Regions from separate parts of the Homo sapiens genome. Here region 1 is linked to region 2. The links come from fine-mapping of genetic effects on gene expression. A gene starts in region 2. The other region holds a variant in brackets. All regions are shown on one strand. Distances are from middle to middle.

Evidence for each region. PIP is the estimated chance that this variant, and not a neighbour inherited with it, causes the effect.
Region 1: its variant is the best candidate, but not a certain one, in a credible set for the expression of LIX1-AS1 in whole blood (INTERVAL, PIP 0.87).

What each region holds. Positions count from the first base shown.
Region 1 is chr5:97,172,055-97,177,443 of GRCh38, reverse strand. RIOK2 (RIO kinase 2) reads left to right here. Exons shown (of 10, transcript NM_018343.3): 4 at 153-328; 5 at 4,181-4,269. It also overlaps the pseudogene RNU1-73P. Among named protein-coding and RNA genes, the nearest start is that of RIOK2, 8.5 kb to the left of the region's middle. The variant C/T (reference allele first, on the strand shown) is at 2,578.
Region 2 is chr5:97,070,952-97,076,340 of GRCh38, reverse strand. LIX1-AS1 (LIX1 and RIOK2 antisense RNA 1) reads right to left here and starts at 2,616. Exons shown (of 8, transcript NR_187470.1): 1 at 2,503-2,616.

The DNA.
Region 1 (5,389 bases), 100 kb before region 2:
TCTGGTCCGAAGGTTTTGGATAAGGAGGGATACTCAATCTTTATTAGGAAAAATGACATTTTTGATACAAATAAAATTAGAGAAAGTTAGAATTGTTTTAACTGATTGGAATAAACGTGTAATAATGGTTGTTTTTGAAATTTTGTCTCTAGATATTTACATTGTTGCAAATGAAGAAGGACAACAATTTGCATTAAAGCTTCACAGACTAGGAAGAACCTCGTTTCGAAATTTGAAAAACAAACGCGATTATCATAAACATAGGCACAATGTGTCATGGCTATATTTATCTCGTCTCTCTGCCATGAAGGAATTTGCCTATATGAAGGTATTTATTTTATTTTGTAGTCATGCATTTTTTAGCCAAATAATACATGTGTCTCAAAGGCCTTAATGACAAGTGTGATTCTGTTGTCCCCACATCTCTCTAACCTTAGACTCAATTCCTACAGACAGACTCAATCTTAAATAACTCTGTTGATTATTTGGGCTCTTTTAAGTGATTTCCTTCTACGTTAAGGTATTTTAAATTGTTACTAATGCATAAGGGCAACACATTCTGTAATGCTGACAAGATGAAAGAGCCAAAAGTAATTAATGATGCTGTTACCTCACAAATATGTATGTGTGGATGTATATATATCTATTCAATATATGTAACTATACATATGTCTGTTTCTAATTGAAAACACCAGGTAATTATCATCTGTAGAAACCTTAGTGTCTCAGATAAGTTGGCTAGTTTTTTGTTTCACATAAAGGAACAAACATTTATAGATTTATATGTATATTAAAAATGGTAAAAATTGGCTGGGTGCAGTGGTTCATGCCTATAATACCAGCACTTTGGGAAGCCGAGGTGGGCGGATTACTTGAGGTAAGGAGCCCAGCCTGACCAACAAGGTGAAACCCCATCCCTACTAAAAATACAAGAATTAGCCGGGGATGGTGGTGGCCACCTGTAATCCCAGCTACTTGGGAGACTGAAGCAGGAAAATCACTTGAACCCAGGAAGCAGAGGTTGCAGTGAGTGAAGATTGTGCCACTGCACTCAAGCCTGGGCAACAGAGCAAGACTCTGTCTCAAAAAACAAAAATGGTAAAAATCTTTAGTTTTTAAGAGGTAAGGATGAAGAGAAGTGGGTTAAAGGATACAAACATACAATTAGAAGGAATACATTCAATGTTTGATAGCAGAGTAGGGTGACTATAGTAAACAAAATGTATTGTACTCAGGAGATGAACACACTAAATACCCTGACTTGATGACTTCTCATATATACTTAACAAAATGTTACATGTACCTCATACATTTATACAAATAGAAAAAAATGCTTAACCTGGCAGATGAAATGTCAAAATCTCAAAGACGGTTTTCTCAGGGTTAGGCCTATTCATTGCACTTCAGGTGTGCTGACCCCTGCAGTTTCCCCAAATATTGGAACTTGACTGCATATTTTGTGGCACTGGCGGACTACATTTATACTGTCCCCTGACATTAAAAAAAAAAATCCTTTATTTTTAACTTTGCCTTCAAAATTAAGTTCAGCATAGATTGTTAAATATAATAATATCCAAATTAAATATATCCAACAATAACTAAGTTAAACAAAAGATAATATTGTGTTTTTATAATCCTGCCAGTAGGATTTGTCATAGTTTATCTTCATTTTTCAAAACAATGTGAATTAAAGATTGCTACAGTGTGTGAACACCTGTTTCTTGAGGATTCAGCTTGTTCTTTGAGTGGGTTATATACTTAAATTTTCACTAATCATGGGAGATTTCTTAAGGCAGCATAAATTAGTAATACTGATACCATACATGTCAATGTACTTCTTATACTAATAGTTTGTATCTTGTAATATTCAGTCAGTAAATGAGCAGCTTGGTAGGGATCATTTACACATTTTCCCAAAAGGGTAGTAGGTGTTTTTCAGGATATTTATATTGAAGGTATAGGAATGGAATCTGGTTGCACATAAATGCACTCCTTAATGTATTGATTATTCATAAGAGAGGAACAAGAAGATAAAGATTGGGCTATAGCATGAGGTCTAGGCGATAGCACAAGTTCTAGACAAATATTCACAATCTTTAAGTTTATCACGTGCTATTGATCTGTCTAGGTATGCTCAAAATGGTCTACACTGAAAAAAAGTATTTAAAAACAAAGCAAAGAAAAATATCTGGGAAGTGGGAAGTGGTTTGGTTCTTGTTCACAGAAGGTAAGCAATAGACAACCTTTTGAAATTAATTGCTGGGGTAGTGTAGGGTGAAGGAGTGGATGCCAAAGAAATAACCAGTACGATCTGTGTCTTAAAGTTGAGAAGATAACACATGAAACAGAACCTTTTATTTATTTATTTATTTATTTATTTATTTTCAAGACAAGGTCTCACTCTGTCACCCAGGCTGGAGTGCAGTGGCACGATCACGGCTCACTGCAGCCCCTACCTCCTGGGCTCAAGCCATCCTCCCACCTCAGCCTCCCAAGTATCTAGGATCACAGGCATGTGCTACCATGCCTGCTTTGTAGAGACAGGACCTTGCTGTGTTGCCCAGGCTGCTCTCAAAC[C/T]CCTGGCCTCAAGAGATTCACCCACCTCGGCCTCCCAAAGTACCGGGGTTATAAGCGTGAGCCACCACTGCAAGTCTAAGAACAATTTTTTTTTTAATTATATACTGAATTTAGAGAAACTTCAGTAAGTGATAGAATAGTTGATGGAGGAGGTTTCAGGTAGTGAGTGGAGCTGAGTGGAGCCATGAAGCTTGGATATTATTTGACCCTAAGACAGTGCATTTTGGCAGAGAAGTGGTATGGGCAATGACATGAATCTATGTGAGTCCTATGTGTTTAGGTGACACTGAGGTGACTGTCCTGACTGCGTTTCTTGGTGTGTATTGGAGAGAATATTGGGAGAACTAGGACTGTACAGGTGGATTAAAGAGTTTTGAAAACCAGGAAAAGTTTATATTTACAAACTGAAAAGAAAATTTACAGCCAATGTAAAAAAAAACTTTTTTTGAGGTGTAGTCTTGCTCTATCACCCAGGCTAGAATGCAGTGGCACGATATCAACTCACTGCAACCTCTGCCTCCCGGGTTCACGCGATTCTCCTGCCTCAGCCTCCCAGGTAGCTGGGACTACAGGCATGTGCCACCACGCCTGGCTAATTTTTTTGTATTTTTAGTAGAGATGGGGTTTCACCATGCTGGCAGGCTGGTGTCGAACTCCTGACCTCAACTGATCCACCCGCCTCGGCCTCCCAAATTGCTGGGGTTACAGACGTGAGACTCCATGCCCATCCCAATGTATATATTTTTAAATGGAATATTAACATCAGCAGGTTAGTCTGGTATTGGTACATAGAATAGGTTAGGTATGATGGCAAGAGCTAGAACACTTGTGGAGTAATGAGGTATATGCCTCCTTACAAGTATATGTTGGTGCAAAAGTAATTGCAGTTTTTGCCATTCCTAATACTAGCATTCTAAATGTCAAAGGGCATAAATCTAAGGTATTTTAAAGAAAGTAATAACAGGGCTTTGTAAACAGTAAGATTGAAGACAGTAAGCTTAGGGGAAAAGATGTATGGAGAGTCTTAACACTTGAATCAGACTACAACAGTGTATATTTTTCACATAATAGATTTATATTGCATATTGTGGCCTGGAGAAAAAGTTCAGTGCCCTATAAACCAAAATGTCTGATCTCTTAGAATGCCTCATTTCCTAATATGTCCGAAGATGAGTATTTCCTAAATTTGTTTCCAATTTAAATATTTTGAGCACATTTCAACAAATGTCAGAGACTTACAAAATAGGAAAGGATATACCCTAAGAGACTGTAAGCTTCTTGGGGGCTTTTTGACACTAATTTTAGAGTGTTTAGAAACTTTTTAACATTCATTTTTGTAACCCCAGCACAGTGCATAACATTTTGTAAATGTTCATTTTTTGTGGAAAAGTGAATTCAAACTTTTGTTTAAAATTTGCTTTTTATGTGTGGCTAATTCTACGCAGTGAATAAATAAGCTATGCATAAATAACCATGTGTTAACTACAATTTTATAAAGGTTTGTGTGTTTTTTTTCTGGTTGTAGAAAGGTATATTTACTTTTATTGTTCTTTAAAGAGTAATGACCTGTTCATTAGCTTACACCTGTTTTGCAACATTTTAGGCATTGTATGAGAGGAAATTTCCAGTTCCAAAGCCAATTGATTACAATCGTCATGCAGTGGTCATGGAACTCATAAATGGTTATCCACTGTAAGTATTCATTATTCTTAAAGCCATGAATCCTGATAAATGAATTTAAGTTTCAGGGTTTTTAATAAAATTTTTTTTAGTTAATGAAATATTGCCTCTGGGAGGTTAAAATTTATTTAAAGGAATAGACTCAAAGACAAATTAAAAACCCAGTTTCATTCTGACAATATGAACTTTGTAATCTCTGTGATTCATTCATTCATTCAATATTAAGAGACTGTTAGGTGCCAGGAACTTTTAATCTCAGCAGTGAACAAAACAAAGTCCCTGCCCTCATGGAATTTACATTCTGATGGAAGGAGATGTGCAATAAATAACTAAAGGAAATGTATATCAATTGTTAGTAAGTACTATGGATAAAAAAAAGCAGAGTAAGGGAGATAGGAAGTACTAACGGGACAGGAGACTACTGTTTTATGTAGGGTGGTCAAGAAAAGTCTCACTAATAAGGTGAAACCTCATCAAATTTTGATTCAGATTAGCAGCTATTGGAGTGGGAGTATTTTGAGCAGAGAAGAGATGTGATCTCATCAATCAGTGATCTCAGTGTTTTCAGAGGGTCACTCTGCTTGCTGAATTAATAGACTCTGGGGAGACAAAGAATTAGGAAGACAAGTTAAGAGGCTATTACAATAATCTAGGCAAGAAATGGTTGTAATTCTGATTACAGTGATAGTTGTGAAGGTGATGAAAAGTGGTCAGATTCTGAATGTGTTCTGCAGGTTGAACCAACATGATTTGAGATTGGATATGGATGTGAAGGAAGGGATGAGTCAATGGTGACACCAAGGTTTTTCCCCTGAGTAGCAAATTAACTGGAAGGAGAAATCTACCATGTATAGAAACAGGAAAGCTACAGGAACAGCATTTTGGAGTTGGAGGGTGGGACAGAATCAGAGATTCCATTTTGGACATGCTAAGTTTGAGATGCCTGGGAGTTAGAGAAGTCTACATTAAAATCAGTGTATATGTGGTATTTAAACCATTAACCTAGATGAGATCACCAAGAATGAGTCTAAATAAGAGAAAATAAAAGGTCATAGGATTGACCTTTGAGGAACTCCAGAATTTAGAGGTCAAGGAAAAAGATGAAGTACAAATAGAAAAGACTAAGAAGGTA
Region 2 (5,389 bases):
AAATGAGAAAATAGAGTCAGAGAGGTTAAGTAGTTTGCCCAGAGACACACAGCAAGGAAGTTAAAACTGTCTATTGCCATTGTGTAGATCTGAGCACAAATGCTTTGTCATCAATGGTTAATTCAGTACTTTTTTGACTTTAATAAAGCTGAGAATCACCTGGGGATCTTTTAGAAACATAGCCTGTGGTGCAGTAGGTCTGGAGTGGGGCCCTTAAAATGTATTTCTAACAACTTCCCAAGTGACACTGATGCTTCTGGTCTGAGGATCGTATTTAGAGAAGGAATATCATCAACCATGTCCTCGTCAAATTCATAGTTCTGGGCTGCATCATGGTACACGGGCCATGTTATTAGTTGTCTCCCACTTGTGTAAGATGTAGAGGAAATAACATAAGATGCCTGTGAGGATTTGATGTGATCATCTGAGTCTTGCTCTGACAATTATTAACATTCAGTTGCCCATTAAAATTCTTTGGAATCCTAGGACTTTGTCTGCTCGTCTCCTGTCAAATTCACTCCCCATCACCAATGGAGAGCAGCAGAGTTACTTAATCATTTCAGTCTTTTTCCATTCATTTCACACAGCTGTAATCAAAAACATAGGAGACTTAGAAGCCGATATGGAAATATGCTTCTGCTCCTCCGGGAGACATTTTTAGCTAGAAAGCTACTGATCTAACCTCAGATCCTCAAGACAATTACCCAGGAGCTGCTGTTGACTAACGAGTGAGCATTTGAAGCACGCACACAAGAGAAAGAAAGTGTTTTACACAAACACAAGAGCTTCATGGGCCTATATGATCAGGCCTAAGAAGACTAAAATATCTTTTCCTAATAAATATTCATTGAGCTAAGCACTTTGCTACATGATTTCTAATTAAATGTCATATTTTAATTCTCACAACTATCCTGTGAGATAACTTTCTCATCCCTGTTTTTTAGATTTAAAAAAACTGAGGCTTGAGAATTTTACATGACTTACCCAATGTCACATAGATGACATGAAATAGATCTGGCATTTGGCTCCCAGCCCAGTGTGTTCTCTCGATTATATAACTCCGTGTTATGTTAGTCTACACAGGAGCCAAGGTAAAGCCATACTTACCTGGGATTGCATTCCTGCTCTTAAACTTAATGGTTATATAACCTTGGGTAAGTTGTTTAAATTTTCTAAGGCTTAGTTTTTCAATATAAACGCAGAAAAGGCATGTCTAGGAAGAATTAGGGAAGGAAGTAATACCTGAGCCGAGTCTTGAAAGATAAACAGGAACTTTCAAGATAGACTGTTGGGTGGGGCAGGTTAAGAAAAGTGTACCAATGGGAACAACTGTGCAAAGACATGGAGTTGGAAGACAGCATGGAGCTTCAGGAAATAACAAATATTTCAGGGGTGCTGGCTCATGCATCTCTGCTCTACAAAATGGGAGCCCATGAAAACAAAAATCTCCATCTCCTAGCTCAGTACCTAATCCATTATCAGTACTTCACAGCACAGGATAGGTGTTTCAGAAATACTGGTTGAATGAAATAAATGAATAGGTGAATGAAAATATTTAATATTTGCTGCTAAACTAGAGGAAGATCATTGGTCATGTACTGGTTAGGCTGAGTGGCTTAAACAACAGAAATTTATTTTCTCAAAGTTCTGGAGGTGGGGAAGTCTAAGATGAAGGTGCCAGTAGATTTGGGTTTTAGTGAGGGCTCTCTTCCTGGCTTGCAAATGGTCACCTTCTAGGTGGAGAGAGGAAGCTCCGGCGTCTCTTGCTCTTCTTATAAGGGCAAGTAATCCCACCATGGAAGCTCCATGCTCATGCCCTCAGCTCAATCTAATTTACCCCTCAAAAGGCCTACCTCCTCATAGCATAACATTGAGTGTAGGGCTTCAACATATGGATTTTGAGGGGACACAAACATTCAGTCCATGATAGAGACTTAATCGCCTTGTCTAAATTCAAGATACTCTATCTCCTTAGTCGTATATGTAGGATTAGGCTTTTTTCTTTTTTTTTTTTTGAGACAGAGTCTTGCTCTGTCACCCAGGCTGGAGTGCAGTGGCTCGGTCTCGGCTCACTGCAAGCTCCGCCTCCGGGGTTCACGCCATTCTCCTGCCTCAGCCTCCGGAGTAGCTGGGACTACAGGCGCCCGCCACCACGCCCGGGGCATTTTTTGTATTTTCAGTAGAGACGGGGTTTCACCGTGTTAGCCAGGATGGTCTCCATCTCCTGACCTCGTGATCCGCCCACCTCAGCCTCCCAAAGTGCTGGGATTACAGGCGTGAGCCACGCGCGCCCGCCTAGGGTTAGGCTTTATATTCTGTACCTCACTCCAGATACCACATCTTGGGGATAAAAATAATATCACAATGACCACAACAGTATCATTCTCTGGCTCTGTCCTTCACTTCCCACTTCTAGAAGTTCCAACTCTCTCGAATTTCTCCCGCACTTAAGATACCCCCAGGGCACAGCTCACACTTGCTCACAGGCGAATTCCTTCTTACCTTCTGGCATCTGCCATTATCTCTTCTCCTGCTCTTTTGTGCTGTGTCTGATGAATTCTGTGGCTGCTGATACCAAAAGCATCAATAGTCCCTCAAAGATGGTCAAGATGAAATGGGAGAGTTTCCTAACCCCCTTCACAGGATGTGTGACAGGGGTGTGGCTCATCTGTTCAGCCTCTGTGCACTCAAACCCCTTACTGGAGGGGGAGCATGCAGACGGGCAGGTGCAGGAGGCGGGGCAAACACTTTTGGGCTCCAGCCCCATGGTAGTAGCATCCAGGGTGGGTGCCTGCAACTCCCAAAGCCCCAGTGGGCATGTTACAGTGCTCTTTTAGCTCTGCCGTCCACAGACAGCTCAAGTGTTATCCAGCCCAGTGCCCTCTTGGTACCTGGATGCTGGGTTCTTGTCCAGCATCCAGGAAGAATCAGGTCACACAGGCAAATTGAAGGATAGTGAATGCAAGAGATTTTATTGCCAGATGGAGGTGGCTCTCAGTGGAATGGCTGGGGAGTGGGGAAGCGAATGGAGTAGGAAGATGTTCCTCCCCTGGAGTTGGGTCGTCCTGCGGCCAATCTCCTCTCCGACTGTCCCCAGCCAAACTCCTCTCAACATTCAGATGCTGCTTCTCTTCCCTCTTTCTCTACCACGCTGCTCGGCCACACTGCTATTCTTCTGTTCCTCTGCTCTTCTATTCGTCTGCTTTTCTGCTCATGGAGCCTGCAATTTGGGGTTTATATTGGTACAAGATGGGGGGTGGACATGGTGGGCCAAAAGGCAACATTTGGGTGCAAAAACAAGAATGCCTATTCCCATTTAAAGTCATGGGTTTCCAGGCTTGAGGGTGGGGCCTTTGGGAGGGAACCTCCCTCTTCTACCCGGTATTTCCCTGCCTCCTGTCTGTATAAATGCCACCACTGGTGGCCAAGCCTGCCAAAATCGCAGCTGCTCCTGCCATTGCCAGGAAACTAAGACCATCAAGGGATGAGGTCTACTCCCACATCTTCTCAATTCAGGATGAGGTTTGCCCACTTTCCTGTTCAGGCAGTAGCCCCAGAGCTGCTGTCTGACACTCAGGCTGCAAAGCTGTGCTGACCTAAGCTCTAGCTGCCTTAGCAGATATCCAGGAAACAGCTTCTCTGGTTTTTACGGAATGTTTTTTGAAGTCTTTCTCCCAAGGACATGAGTCCACAAGGGCTGAGTATTAAACTTCTCCCTCTTTAACACTGATCTGTTGACTTTGGACCAAAGCTCCATACTAACATGCCTTTTCCACTACAGAAGACACTCGTTTTCCCTCCCAAATCCCCCAGATGGTGACTGAATGTCGGTGCAAACTTAACTTTGGCTCAAGTTGGGATTCCCGCTTTGAGGTGAAACTCCCACAGGCACAATACAAACTTCTTTTGTGCCTCTTTTCTACTCCATGATACTAGACAAATGGTTAATACTTAATAACAATAATAATACTTTTTAAATGGGAAACTGGTAGTATAAAGATATACCGTATTTATGCACTACAGGGGGAAAAAAGTGACTCCTGAAAATGCTAAGCATTTCAATTCTAATACAAGCAGCCTGGTTCTGTAAACCTAGCTCAGCAAATCGTGCCTGGACGTGGTCAGTCCTCTATAAATACATAATGCATGAGCAGCTGTCTGAAAGGCTGCTGAAGCCAAGCAAAGAAACCTCACCTGTGGAGGATGCAGGCCTGGGGACGTTGTAGTAGGTCATGATCTCAAAAGAATGACCATGAAGACTTTCAATACACAAAAAATTGAATCTTAAAGACAATGATGTTCTCTTCCCCATTGAGATCCTTTAGAAAAGTAACATGACATGGTATGAGAGATAATAGGAAGGAAGAGAAGAAAACACTAGATGACTATCTACTATGTTTCTTTTTACTATAGACTTGCTGATCTCTTGGCTAGTTCTTGAATGTTCCAGGAATGTTCCCTTCTCAGGACCGTTCCAGTTGCTGTTCTCTATAACTAGAATACACCTATCTGAGAAAATTCATATGGCTTGGTCCCTGGCTTCCTTCAGGCCTCTGCTACACAACTTGGTCTTTCCTGGCCACCCTTTATAACAAGAGCTCCCTCCCTACTCTCTGTCCCTGTACCAGATTTTATGTTTCTTCATAGCATTTAACTACTGCATGGCCTTATATCATTTGCTTATTATCTCTCACACTACAGTGTCAGGTCCACGAGGTGAGGAACTGTGCTTGCTGTATTCATTGCTCTGTACCTAATACCTAACACATAGTAGGTGCTCAATAAATAATTTTAAAATGAATGATTATCTAAATATAAATTGTAGTGCAAGATACTGTTAACCATAAATACAATCTAGTAAAATATTTTAAAAGCTGCTAAAAAAAAAAACTCTAGCCAATTAAATTTGAAAGAGTTTAATTGAGCAAAGAATGATTCGCGAATCAGGCAGCCTCCTGAGCCAGAGTAGACTCAGAGACTCCAGCACAGCCACGTGGTGAAAGAAGATTTATGGACAGAAAAGGGAAAGTGACGTACAGAAATGGAAGCGAGGCACAGAAACAGCTGGATTAGTCACAACTTGGCGTTTGTCTTATTTGAACACGGTTCAAACAGTTGGCCACGCTTGATTGGCCAAAACTTGGTGATTGGCACAAGAGCAGGTTACAGTCTGTTTACAATTCCATTTAGGTTTGTTAAATCAAGTTTAGCCTAAAGCTGCCTCCTTACATATTTTAAGTTCGGCCTAAAGGTTTCTCTGTACATCATGAACTATGACAAGTGGAGGTGTAAACAGGCCATAGTCTACACTTGTGCCAATTACTAAGTTTTGATGAATCAAATGTAGCCAACTGTTCGAACCATGTTCAAATAAAGCAAATGCTGAGCT